2 separate regions of the Homo sapiens genome follow, and region 1 is linked to region 2. Evidence: fine-mapped expression QTL. A gene starts in region 2. The other region holds a variant in brackets. All regions are shown on one strand. Distances are from middle to middle. Region 1 overlaps RIPOR2 (RHO family interacting cell polarization regulator 2). Region 2 holds the start of GMNN (geminin DNA replication inhibitor).

What was found. PIP is the estimated chance that this variant, and not a neighbour inherited with it, causes the effect.
Region 1: its variant is the best candidate, but not a certain one, in a credible set for the expression of GMNN in whole blood (TOPMed, PIP 0.55).

The regions. Positions count from the first base shown.
Region 1 is chr6:24,805,947-24,811,330 of GRCh38, forward strand. It overlaps RIPOR2 (RHO family interacting cell polarization regulator 2), which reads right to left. Exons shown (of 22, transcript NM_001286445.3): 21 at 3,771-3,861; 22 at 1-527. The coding sequence ends at 427. Among named protein-coding and RNA genes, the nearest start is that of ARMH2, 9.7 kb to the left of the region's middle. The variant G/A (reference allele first, on the strand shown) is at 2,374.
Region 2 is chr6:24,771,760-24,777,143 of GRCh38, forward strand. GMNN (geminin DNA replication inhibitor) reads left to right here and starts at 3,178. Exons shown (of 7, transcript NM_015895.5): 1 at 3,178-3,485. RefSeq lists an enhancer at 4,093-4,172.

The sequences.
Region 1 (5,384 bases), 34 kb after region 2:
GTTGTTGTTGTTTTGTTTTTTGAGACAGGGTTTTGCTCTGTCACCCAGTCTGGAGTGCAGTGGGGCAATTATGGCTCACTGCAGCCTGAATCTTCTGGGCTCAAGCAATCCTCCCACCTTAGCCTCCCAAGTAGCTGGGACTACAGGTGCATGCCACCACGCCTGACTAATTAAACTATTTTTTTTGTAGAGACAGGGCCTTGCTATGTTGCCCAGGTTGGTCTTGAACCTCCTGGGCTTAAGCAATTCTCCTGCGTTGGCCTCCCAAAGTACTGGGATTACAGGCATGAGCCACTGCACCTGGCCTACATTTTTATTTCAGTTGTCGTGTCTCTCAGGCTCTAAACAATTTCCAGCCCAAACCACAGCACCATCCTGATGAAAAGGGCCAGATATTAAGACAGCTGTTAGGCAGTTAACCTGTAATTAAAAGGCTGTGGCAACTTCAGTTCCATGACGACCTCCGACTTTAACACAGTCTCGAGGAAATTTGTCCAATTGTTCATATGCCAGCCGCCCATCTTCTCCTAAATACAGAACATTAAACATGAATACCAATTCAAACAACGTTTTTATTAATTACTCAAAGTAACATAGTGCCATTTGTTTAGGGATGGGTTGCTATAATATGCTATGCTAACTTTTGGTAAGGAAAAGTTATCTTTTGTTATTCCTAATTATGTCATTGTTTTCCAGGTAATGCTTAGAACAACCAAGAACTTTTGAGCTAATTAATGCCAGAGACCAAAAGAATGCCAGGGTATGAAACAGAGTAGAAGTCTTATGGCCATTTGATGTTGATGATTTCATATAATCGATTTATTTTAGAGCAATTGTATGGATTATATTTTAAGTACATTAGGGATTTCAATATGGCTAATGCACTGAACTTTTACATAACTTTTACTTGTATACATTATATATCGATACATCTAAATGATATGTGGTAAAATCAATCTTAGGCTTTCAAACTTCAGCTAAAAATTACTTTTTACTATGTAAACATACAGAGATGCCTTCTACCAGCCACCAGCTAGTTCAGTTTTGTCCGTAACGCCACCTTGAACAGTTAGGATGCAATTGCAAATAATTTTAATGTTTTGTTCTATTTTTCTACTTTAAAAAATGATTTAGAAAATGAGAAAATAAAATGCAAAGACAAGTGATAAGAAGCAGGCTTTCATACATGTAATGCAAGTGAGACAAAGATGGAAATAGTTGTGCCTAATCAGAAGTTCAGCTGGGTGTGGTGGCTCACACCTGTAACCCCAGAACTTTGGGAAGCCAAGGTGAGTGGATCACTTGAGGTCACGAGTTTGAGACCAGCCTGATCAACACAGTGAAACCCCATCTCTACCAAAAAATACAAAAAAAGAGTTAGCTGGGTGTGGTGGAATCCACCTGTAGTCCCAGCTACTTGGGAGGCTGAGGCAGGAGAATTGCTTGAACTCGGGGGCAGAGGTTGCAATGAGACGAGATTGCATCATTGCACTCCAGCCTGGGTGATAGAGAGAGACTCCATGTTTAAGGTAGGCTAGGCTAAGCTATGATGTTCTGCAAGTAAGATGTATTAAGTGCATTTTTGACTTAACAGTATTTTCAACTTACAACGGGTTTATTGGGATGTAACCCCATTGTAAGTCAAGGAGCAGCTATCCTCAAAATTGAGTAAACTTAAAACTTCAGTTCCTCCATGGTGGCAAAGGTGAACAGCCCAACAGCCATTTAGGATGGCTGCTGTCATACTGGACAGTGCGCATATAGAACAATCCCATCACCATGGAGGGATCTGTTGGACAGCTCTAGGTTAAAATGTCGAAATCATTCCATACTAGTTGGTAAATAGTTGCAGCCCTGAGTCCTTTAAGTGCCCGCAATGACCTTCTGCCCTTTGTCATAGGGCATTTTATCAATTCCTATTGAAAATACTATCCTCACTATATTAATTCAGTCATTTGTGTAAGAGAAAAATGTGCCAGTATTTGTGTATTAGGGTCAAAGAAGATTCATAATATTGACTTCAGGGGGGTCTCAAACTTTATATTAGAATCACCTGGGAGGCTTCAAAAAATCCTTAAAAAATCCTGATGCCAAGGAACACTTAGACCAATGAAAGCAGAATCTTTGGGAGTAGATTGTTTAAGCTTCCCTGGCAAATGTGCAGCCAGTGTTGAGCACTGCACACTGGTGGTGTGAGAGGGCCCAGGGCTGATATGAGCAGTGTGCATGAAGAGCTAAGGTGAAGCAGGTATGGTGATGGCTTCTGGAGATGCTGCTGTTTGCACAGCTCCAGTGAGGCCCGGGGCACATTCTGTAGGATCAGCTTCCTTAGGTTACACTGGAAATAGAAGCTTCGTTGGCTATGCTTTATAA[G/A]CGCCTGGCTTACCTTCATGGTTATTTTAGAATATGAAGGGATAAAGGAGTTTAAACTAATAATACCTTGGTACATTTTTAGAGAATTAAATAATTTCTATGCCTAATACAACCATAAGGAATAACTTTTATTCTTTAAACAAATATATACTGGCTAAGATTTCTGTGGAAGAAATCATATATTCAATAGCAGAATGAAGCCTTGTTAAACCCATAATTGTAAGAAAGAGGGCCTAACAATAAATGGGATTTTCACAGTGATTATAAATGCCATGAGATTCTTCTTCATGTTGTTAAGTTAGTATCACTAAACAAGGGTAGCTTTTTTCTAAGCTGCAGTATTGATTGGATTATGTCTGAGGATTTCTAGGAGCATAGTTTTTATACTTTAAGATTGTGTTGTTGAAGTAAAATTATTTATAATAATTATTTATACTTTTTTCTTTTTTTTTTTTTTTGAGACAGAGTCTTGCTCTGTCACCCAGGCTGGAATACAGTGGCATGATCTCAGCTCACTGCAACCTCCGTTTCCTGGGTTCAAGTGATTCTCCTACCTCAGCCTCCCAAGTAGCTGGGACTACAGGTGCACCCCACCACACCTGGCTAATTTTTGTATTTTTAGTAGATACATGGTTTCATCATGTTGGCCAGGCTGGTCTCGAACTCTTGACCTCAAGTGATCCACTCACCTTGGCCTCCCAAAGTGCTGGGGTTACAGGGGTGAGCCACCAAACCCAGCTATTTATACTTTTTAATACAGAGTTAAGAAAGGCTTTCCCCACCCTCCCAAGTCCCCAAAAAAGAATAAATGTATAATGCCTGCTAGGCATGAACCTTCATAAAATAAAGTGAAGAGGAAGGATTATCTGGATATTTCAGAATAAAATAAGTACTCCAATTCTTTTCTTAGGTATCAGGGCTCAGATGGGCAGAGGCCACAGGGCAGTCAGAGGTTAACCTGGGAGTCAGGGTGAGGCTGAGATACCTGGGGATTTACAGCATTCCCTGGGATGCATCTCTGGTACCTCACCCAATTTCTGTCCTCCAGGGAATGTCAACCCCACCTGGCAACACAGCCTGGATTCCTATTGCCTTTGCTTTATGGTTTGACTTCTGTGTTCTTGATTCTAAATAGTACACAGACTGATCAATCCATATAGAAAGTCTCCAGACAATATAGTTCACTCTCAGCATCCAGACAGAACAAGGAGTTGGGGTGAGATAGACACTGATCAGTTCTTCGTACTCTGTGTGTGAGAAGACAGCCTACAGCGGGGAAACTGCTAAACAGGGTACATGAAACTTCTCCTTACTGGAGAAGGGAACATCTAAATGGGAACATCCGTTAGAGAGTGCCAGAAGCAAACAATCATGTAAACAACAACAATAAAACTCACCCAGAGACAAGAGGGTTTCTGAGGCCACATTTCTGATTTCTTCAGTATCAGATTGACACAATGTCACCAGCATTTTAATGCTTTCAGTAGCCTATGGGGGAAAAATAGGTTAAATCGTGTTTTGACATTTAGGTCTAGAGTACCACGAGACTTGGCATTTCACAACTGGTGGGAACTTTAGCCTCACTTTGTTGCCCAGGCTGGAGTGCAATGGAGCAATCATAGCTCACTGCAGCCTTGACCTCCTGGGCTCAAGCAATTCTCCTGCCTCAGCCTCCTGAGTAGCCAGGACTGATTTTTAATTTTTAACCTTTGGTACAGATGAGGTCTCACTATGTTGCCCAGGCTAGTCGAATTCTTCTGCCTTGGCCTCCTAATGTGGTGGGATTACAGGTGTAAGCCACTGTGCCCGGCCAGCTGGTAGGAATGCTAAAAACCACTTTACCTATGGGGTCAAACCTAGCTGAGTGTCTGAAACCCAATATTCCTGGGTGCCACTCCGGATGCACTATATCAGAATTTCCTGGGATGGGGCCCAGAGTTCTTACTTTCAGGAATTCTGATGATCAGCTAAATTCCTCATTCCACAGCACACTCCTGGTCTAGAGGAGTGAAGTGACGAGCTTGCTTTTCCAGAGTAGAATCCATTTTCCCTGGTTCTTTCCACTGAATCTCACTGATTCCAAAATGGCTCTAATTAAAAAATTCTTACTATTTAGTTTATATGCTAAAATAGAGGAGGAGGTAAAGGCCATTAATGACAATTCTTCTATTTGTTTGTTCCACAAATATTTATTGAGCACTCCATGAACCAGACTATTCATAAGGCATGAGAGATTCCACAGTAAACCAGACATGGTTCTGGTCCTCAAGAATTTACAGTCTAGTGGATTCAGAGTATGAAAACCCATGCAGATCACTGTATCCTTATGTCTTTATTTACTTTGTCTGTATCACAGACATCTGTCACTGATATATCACTGGATATCAGGAAAGCACCCAAATAGCAATCACTGTGGGCTTTCTATTTGGGCACCTGAAGGTAATTTTTTTTTTAACCAAGTAACAAGGCAAAATTTCCTACAGCTGTTTCTTTTTTTTTCTTTGAGACAGAGTCTCATTCAGTCACCCAGACTGGAGTACAGTGGCGTGATCTTGGCTCACTGCAACTTCTGTCTCCTGGGTTCAAGCGATTCTCCTGCCTCAGCCTCCTGAGTAGCTGGGATTACAGGTGTGCGCCACCACGCCTGGCTAATTTTTGTGTTTTCAGTAAGGATGAGGTTTCACCATGTTGGCCAGGCTGGTCTCAAACTCCTGACCTCAGGTGATCCACCGGCCTCAGCCTCCCAAAGTGCTGGGATTACAGGCATGAGCCACCATGCCTGGCCCTAGAGCTGTTTTTGATCACAGGCCATTAACTTTTTCTTTTGAGGTATTAATTCCTTTCTTTATCAGGCCTGCAGCTCTTTTCCAAGATTTTGGCAAGTTCTAAGGTGTGGCCTTCTCTCATTCTTTTTTTTTTTTTTTTTTTTTTTTTTTGAGATGGAGTCTCTGTCGCCCAGGTTGGAGTGCAGTGGTGCAATCTTGGCTCACTGAAACCTCTGTCTCCTGGAT
Region 2 (5,384 bases):
AATAACCTAATCATAGGCATAATCAGAGGTCAGAGATAATGGGTGGCATTTTAGAATTCTATCTACTGTAAGTATGTTGTCAAGCTTTTCTATAGCTGCTAGTCTGATAGTTGAAATAGTTTTTCAGAGTTTTAATTTGCATGTCTCTTATTCTCAGTAAAGTTGAGCATGGTTTTGTATGTTTAAGGACCATTCCTCTATCGTTTTCTCTGAACCGTCCATTCCTGTCTTTTGCCGATTTATCTATTGGGCTGTTGGCTTCTCCCTCTCAATGTTTTATAGCTCTTTAAAAATTAGGGAATGTAGTCTTTTATGTGTAAAAGAAATTCCCTATATTTTCTCTTACTTTATCATTTGTCTTTGCTTATGGAAATCATCCGATTTTTAAAATACAGACAATTTCCATTTTAAGACAATGTGTAGGCCACAATTGTGTATGTGAAACAAAACATATTTAATGCCCAGGGGCCACCTTCTAGACCATCTTCAATCCTTTAAATAATTCTGCACTAAAATAATCCCCTGAAGATCCTGAGTATATTATTCTTTTTTTTTTTCTTTTTGTTTGAGACGTAGTCTCACTCTGTCGCCCAGGCTGGAGTGCAGTGGCGCGATCTCCGCTCACTGCAAGCTCTGCCTCCTGGGTTCACGCCGTTCTCCTGCCTCAGCTTCCTGAGTAGCTGGGACTACAGGCACCTGCCACCATGCCCGGCTAACTTTTTTTTGTGTTTTTAGTAGAGATGGGGTTTCACCATGTTAGCCAGGATGGTCTCGATCTCCTGACCTCGTGATCCACCCGCCTCGGCCTCCCAAAGTGCTGGGATTACAGGGTGAGCCACTGCACCCGGCCAATCCTGAGTATATTATTCTTAACATCATCTGAGTCTCAAGTCCCAAAACCTTCATTAGTAATGTGTTTCATCATTTCACTTCTCTTAGCTGTGCTTATACTCATCAAAGAAATGGTTTGTCAAAAAATAAATTGGTGCAATGTAATTATTATTTATCCATCTGAATAAAAATAAAAATAAAAAAATTGGTGTAAATATTTGTGGTTGCTAAAGTTTTGTTTTGTTTTGTTTTGTTTTGTTTTTGAGATAGAGTCTCACTCTGTCACCTGGGCTAGATTGTGGTAGTGTGATCTTGGCTTACTGCAACCTCCACCACCTGGGTTCAAGCTATTCTCCTGCCTCTGCCTCCTGAGTAGCTGGGATTACAGACGCATGCCACCATGCCTGGATAATTTTTGTATTTTTAGTAGAGACAGGGTTTCACCATGTTGGCCAGGTTGGTCTTGAACTCCTGACCTCAGGGTGATCCGCCAGCCTCAGCCTCCCAAAGTGCTGGGATTACAGGCATGAGCCATGGTGCCTAGTGGTTGCTGAAATTTTTATGGCTAAACATTTTCCAGTATTTCTACCTCCTTATCCCATCATTTAATCCTTTTTAAATTAATATTTTAAAAATTTTATTATTGGCCAGGTGCAGTGGTTCACGCCTGTAATCCCAGCACTTTGGGAGGCCAAGGTGGGCAGATCACACGATCAGGAGTTCAAGACCAGCCTGGCCAACATAGTGAAACCCTGTCTCTACTAAAACTACAAAAAATTAGCTGGGTGTGGTGGCGGGCACCTGTAATCCCAGCTACTTGGGAGGCTGAGGCAGGAGAATCGCTTGAACCCGGGGGGGGCAGAGGTTGCAGTAAGCCGAGGTTGCACCATTGCACTCCAGCCCTGGTGACAGTGCAAGACTCCGTCTCAAAAAAAAAAATTATTATTGAAAATCCCAAACAGATATAAAAGTAGAGGGAGTGAATAAAAAATCTTCATGTACTCATCCATACTAGCCTCAGCAGTTATCAACACAAGGCCAATACTGTTTTATTCGCACCAGTGGTTCTCAACTGGGGATGATTTTGCCCTGCGGAAGGTTATCTGACAAGGTCTGCAGACATTTTTGGTCTTCACAATTGGGATGTACTCCTGGTAGCTAGAGGGTAGAGGCCAGGGATACTGCTAAACAGCATACAATGCCCAGGACAGCCCCCACCACGAACAATTTGCCCAGTCTAAAATGTCAATAGAGCCCATACTGAGAAAGCTTGATTTATACCTTTTCCCTTGCTTCTCTCAATAATTATTTCAAATAAAATATATGGTATAAAATTTCATCTGTAATTACCATTTATAGGTAGAAGCTATTACAATAAAACCCACAATATTGTCATTACAACTAATCTCTTTTTTTAACCCATTGCTCATCAGGTAACCTTAAACAACTCATATCTTACCATCCCAAAATATTCAGTCAGTGTTCAAATTTCCCTTGGGTATTTTTTTAAATACAGTGTTTAGTTCAGACGAGATCCATACATTGCATTTGGTAATATGTCCCTTATTTGTACTCGATAACGCCTTCCTTCTGCTTTTTATTTTTAAAATATTTTAAAATTAATTTTTTTTTGAGACAGGGTCTCCCTTTGTCTGTAGTCCCAGCTACTCGGGAGGCTGAGGCAGGAGAATCGCTTGAACCCGGGAGGCGGAGCTTGCAGTGAGCCGAGATCGCGCCACTGCACTCCAGCCTGGGTGACAGAGCGAGACTCCGTTTCAATTAAAAAAAAAAAAAAGAAGGAAAAGGCTAGACGTAATTATTACCAAGGTGTTTCTGCTCCTTCAAATTGCAACAGCAGTTGTAATTTCAGTGCCTAGAACAGTAGTAATTGGCACGTATAAGGCGCTCAATGAATAGCTGCAGGATTAACTGATAATCGGTTGTCTCCTGAACAATTCCTACCGCACCACACCATAGTCAAAACACAAAAAGCCAAAATATAAAAGCCCCTAATACAACTACGAGTCCGTGGAGCCAGGGCTTTACACAAATATATGTCGTGTACTACATATTAATATATATGCACATACAATATTTTGTTCTTCTGGTGCTAACGACTAATGGAGGCAAATCTTTCTCCCTTTCGTAAAGGGCTAAAACTTTGCATTTTAAGGAAGTTCCAAGAGCAGGGTCGGAGGGGAGGGTCAAAGGGCACAGGCCTCCCAGCCCGCAGAAAACCCCCACGGTCCTCAAGTACTCGCTACCGTTGACCGCGCAGGCGCAGGAAGGGGCGGGGCCGAGGGAAGAGGCGATTCGCGGGATCCAGAGGCCCCGCCCCTCGTCTGCGTCAGTTGGTCACGTGGTTGTTCGGAGCGGGCGAGCGGAGTTAGCAGGGCTTTACTGCAGAGCGCGCCGGGCACTCCAGCGACCGTGGGGATCAGCGTAGGTGAGCTGTGGCCTTTTGCGAGGTGCTGCAGCCATAGCTACGTGCGTTCGCTACGAGGATTGAGCGTCTCCACCCAGTAAGTGGGCAAGAGGCGGCAGGAAGTGGGTACGCAGGGGCGCAAGGCGCACAGCCTCTAGACGACTCGCTTTCCCTCCGGCCAACCTCTGAAGCCGCGTCCTACTTTGACAGCTGCAGGGCCGCGGCCTGGGTAAGGGCGAAGGGGTTGTTGAACGGTCGCGGGAGCCGGGGCGGGGTTGGGAGGTGAGTCGAGGGACTGCCCCATTGGCTGGGTCGGTTTTGGCGCGCTCTCACTTCCGCGCTTCCTATTGGCTGGCTGGCGCAGTTCCCGAGGCGCGCGCCGCGGTTGGTAGGCTCGGACGCGCGGGGCCACACTGCCCGCCCCCTAGCCTGGCGCTGGGCCTCCGGGACAAGTTGGCTGGGTCCGGGCTTGGGGACTGCAACGCGGGTAAGGGACTCAGCCTGGGCTTGCCAGCTGTGGGGATGAGGCGAAGCATCCATCCTCTTGGCAGTTAAGTGGCTGGTCCTGATCTGAGGGATCTGCAAATTTGGCTCATGGAAAGAGGTGGCTGAATTCTGCGTCTCCCATTAAACGGATACTGGCGTTGTTGATACGGGTTTCGCATGGACCCTGTCCTGTGCCAGGGTTTTTAATCTAGCTATTAAAGGAACTGGAGAATAACAAGTAAGGGTTGCAAGGTCGCTGACAGGCGTGGGAAACTTGTGAAGGATTAGAATGCTAAGTGGCTTTCAGCTTTTTTCACACTAAGGTACGTTTTACGTCGCAACCTAGGACACAGCTATCTAACCAAATGAGACGTGATGGAAGCAATGTTTCTCGTCTCTTCAATTCCATTCTGTTCAGTTGCATTTTTCTAAGCAGTGTTGCTCATGACTCACTAATTTCGAGATCACGGCCCGCGACCCGCAGTTTGAAGAACATTGCGTAGGGTCTGTTTACTGGGGCCCGAACACCATTTTCTTAACATGAAATAGAGTAGAAAATAGCAGGATGCCCGCACAAATTAGATTGTTTTGTTTTCTAAGCTTTTTTTTTTTTTGAGACGGAGTCTCGCTCTGTTGCCCAGGCTGGAGTGCAGTGGCAGGATCTCGGCTCACTGCCACCTCCACCTGTCGGGTTCAAGCGATACTCCTGCCTCAGCCTCCCGAGTAGCTGGGACTACAGACGAGCACCACCACGTCCGGCTAATTTTTGTATTTTTGGTAGAGATGGAGTTTCACCATATTGGCCAGGCTGGTTTCGAACTTCTGACCTCAGGTGATCCGCTTGCCTCGACCTTCCAGCACTTTGGTGATCATGCAGGTGATCCGCCTGCCTCGACCTCCCAAAGTGCTGGGATTACAGATGTGAGCCACCACGCCCGGCCTTTCCTAAGCTTTTTTGTTTGCACATGTGTGTGCACGCGCCAGGACACAAGGTAAAATGTATTAATGTTAGAAGCCACTGCACTGAGTAAAGGCATGGCCACAAAAATTAGGGACATCTATCGACGAGGCACAGGCGCAGACACGGCAGGGGCCAATGGGTAGTGGGCAGTGGGCAGTGGGCAGTGGAGCAGCAGTTCAGATGCTGAGTTTGGCCCAGTGGTCTAGTCAACCGCATTACATAGATCCCTTTCTACCTTTTCCCTCTTTCTTGCTTGTTAGTCCTTCAGTTCATGTTACTGGTTAAACATTTCCTACAAATGTAAATGCATGATCTCATTTGACCAGATATTAAGTCTGTGTTAAGTTATTGTCAGAGCCCAGTTTATTATACCTTAAATCTGTCTTTGAATCAGGAAAGTTAAGATGCTGCTCTTTAGGATGGACCTGGGCATACCCTAGTATCTGTTTATTTTGCTTTTTCTGGTGACTATTTAATCCAGGACAATATGTTTAGAAATTTTAAACCAGTTTTAGAAATTGGTTTAAAATACATTAATTTCATTTTTTCAGCTATAATTATTATGTGTGTATATATGTAAAATATAGATATCAAGAGTCATTAACTTTAGTCACCTTAGTCATTGACAGGGCTGAGTTTGGATTAAGAGAGAAAAAATAATAGTTCTACTGTACAATAGTA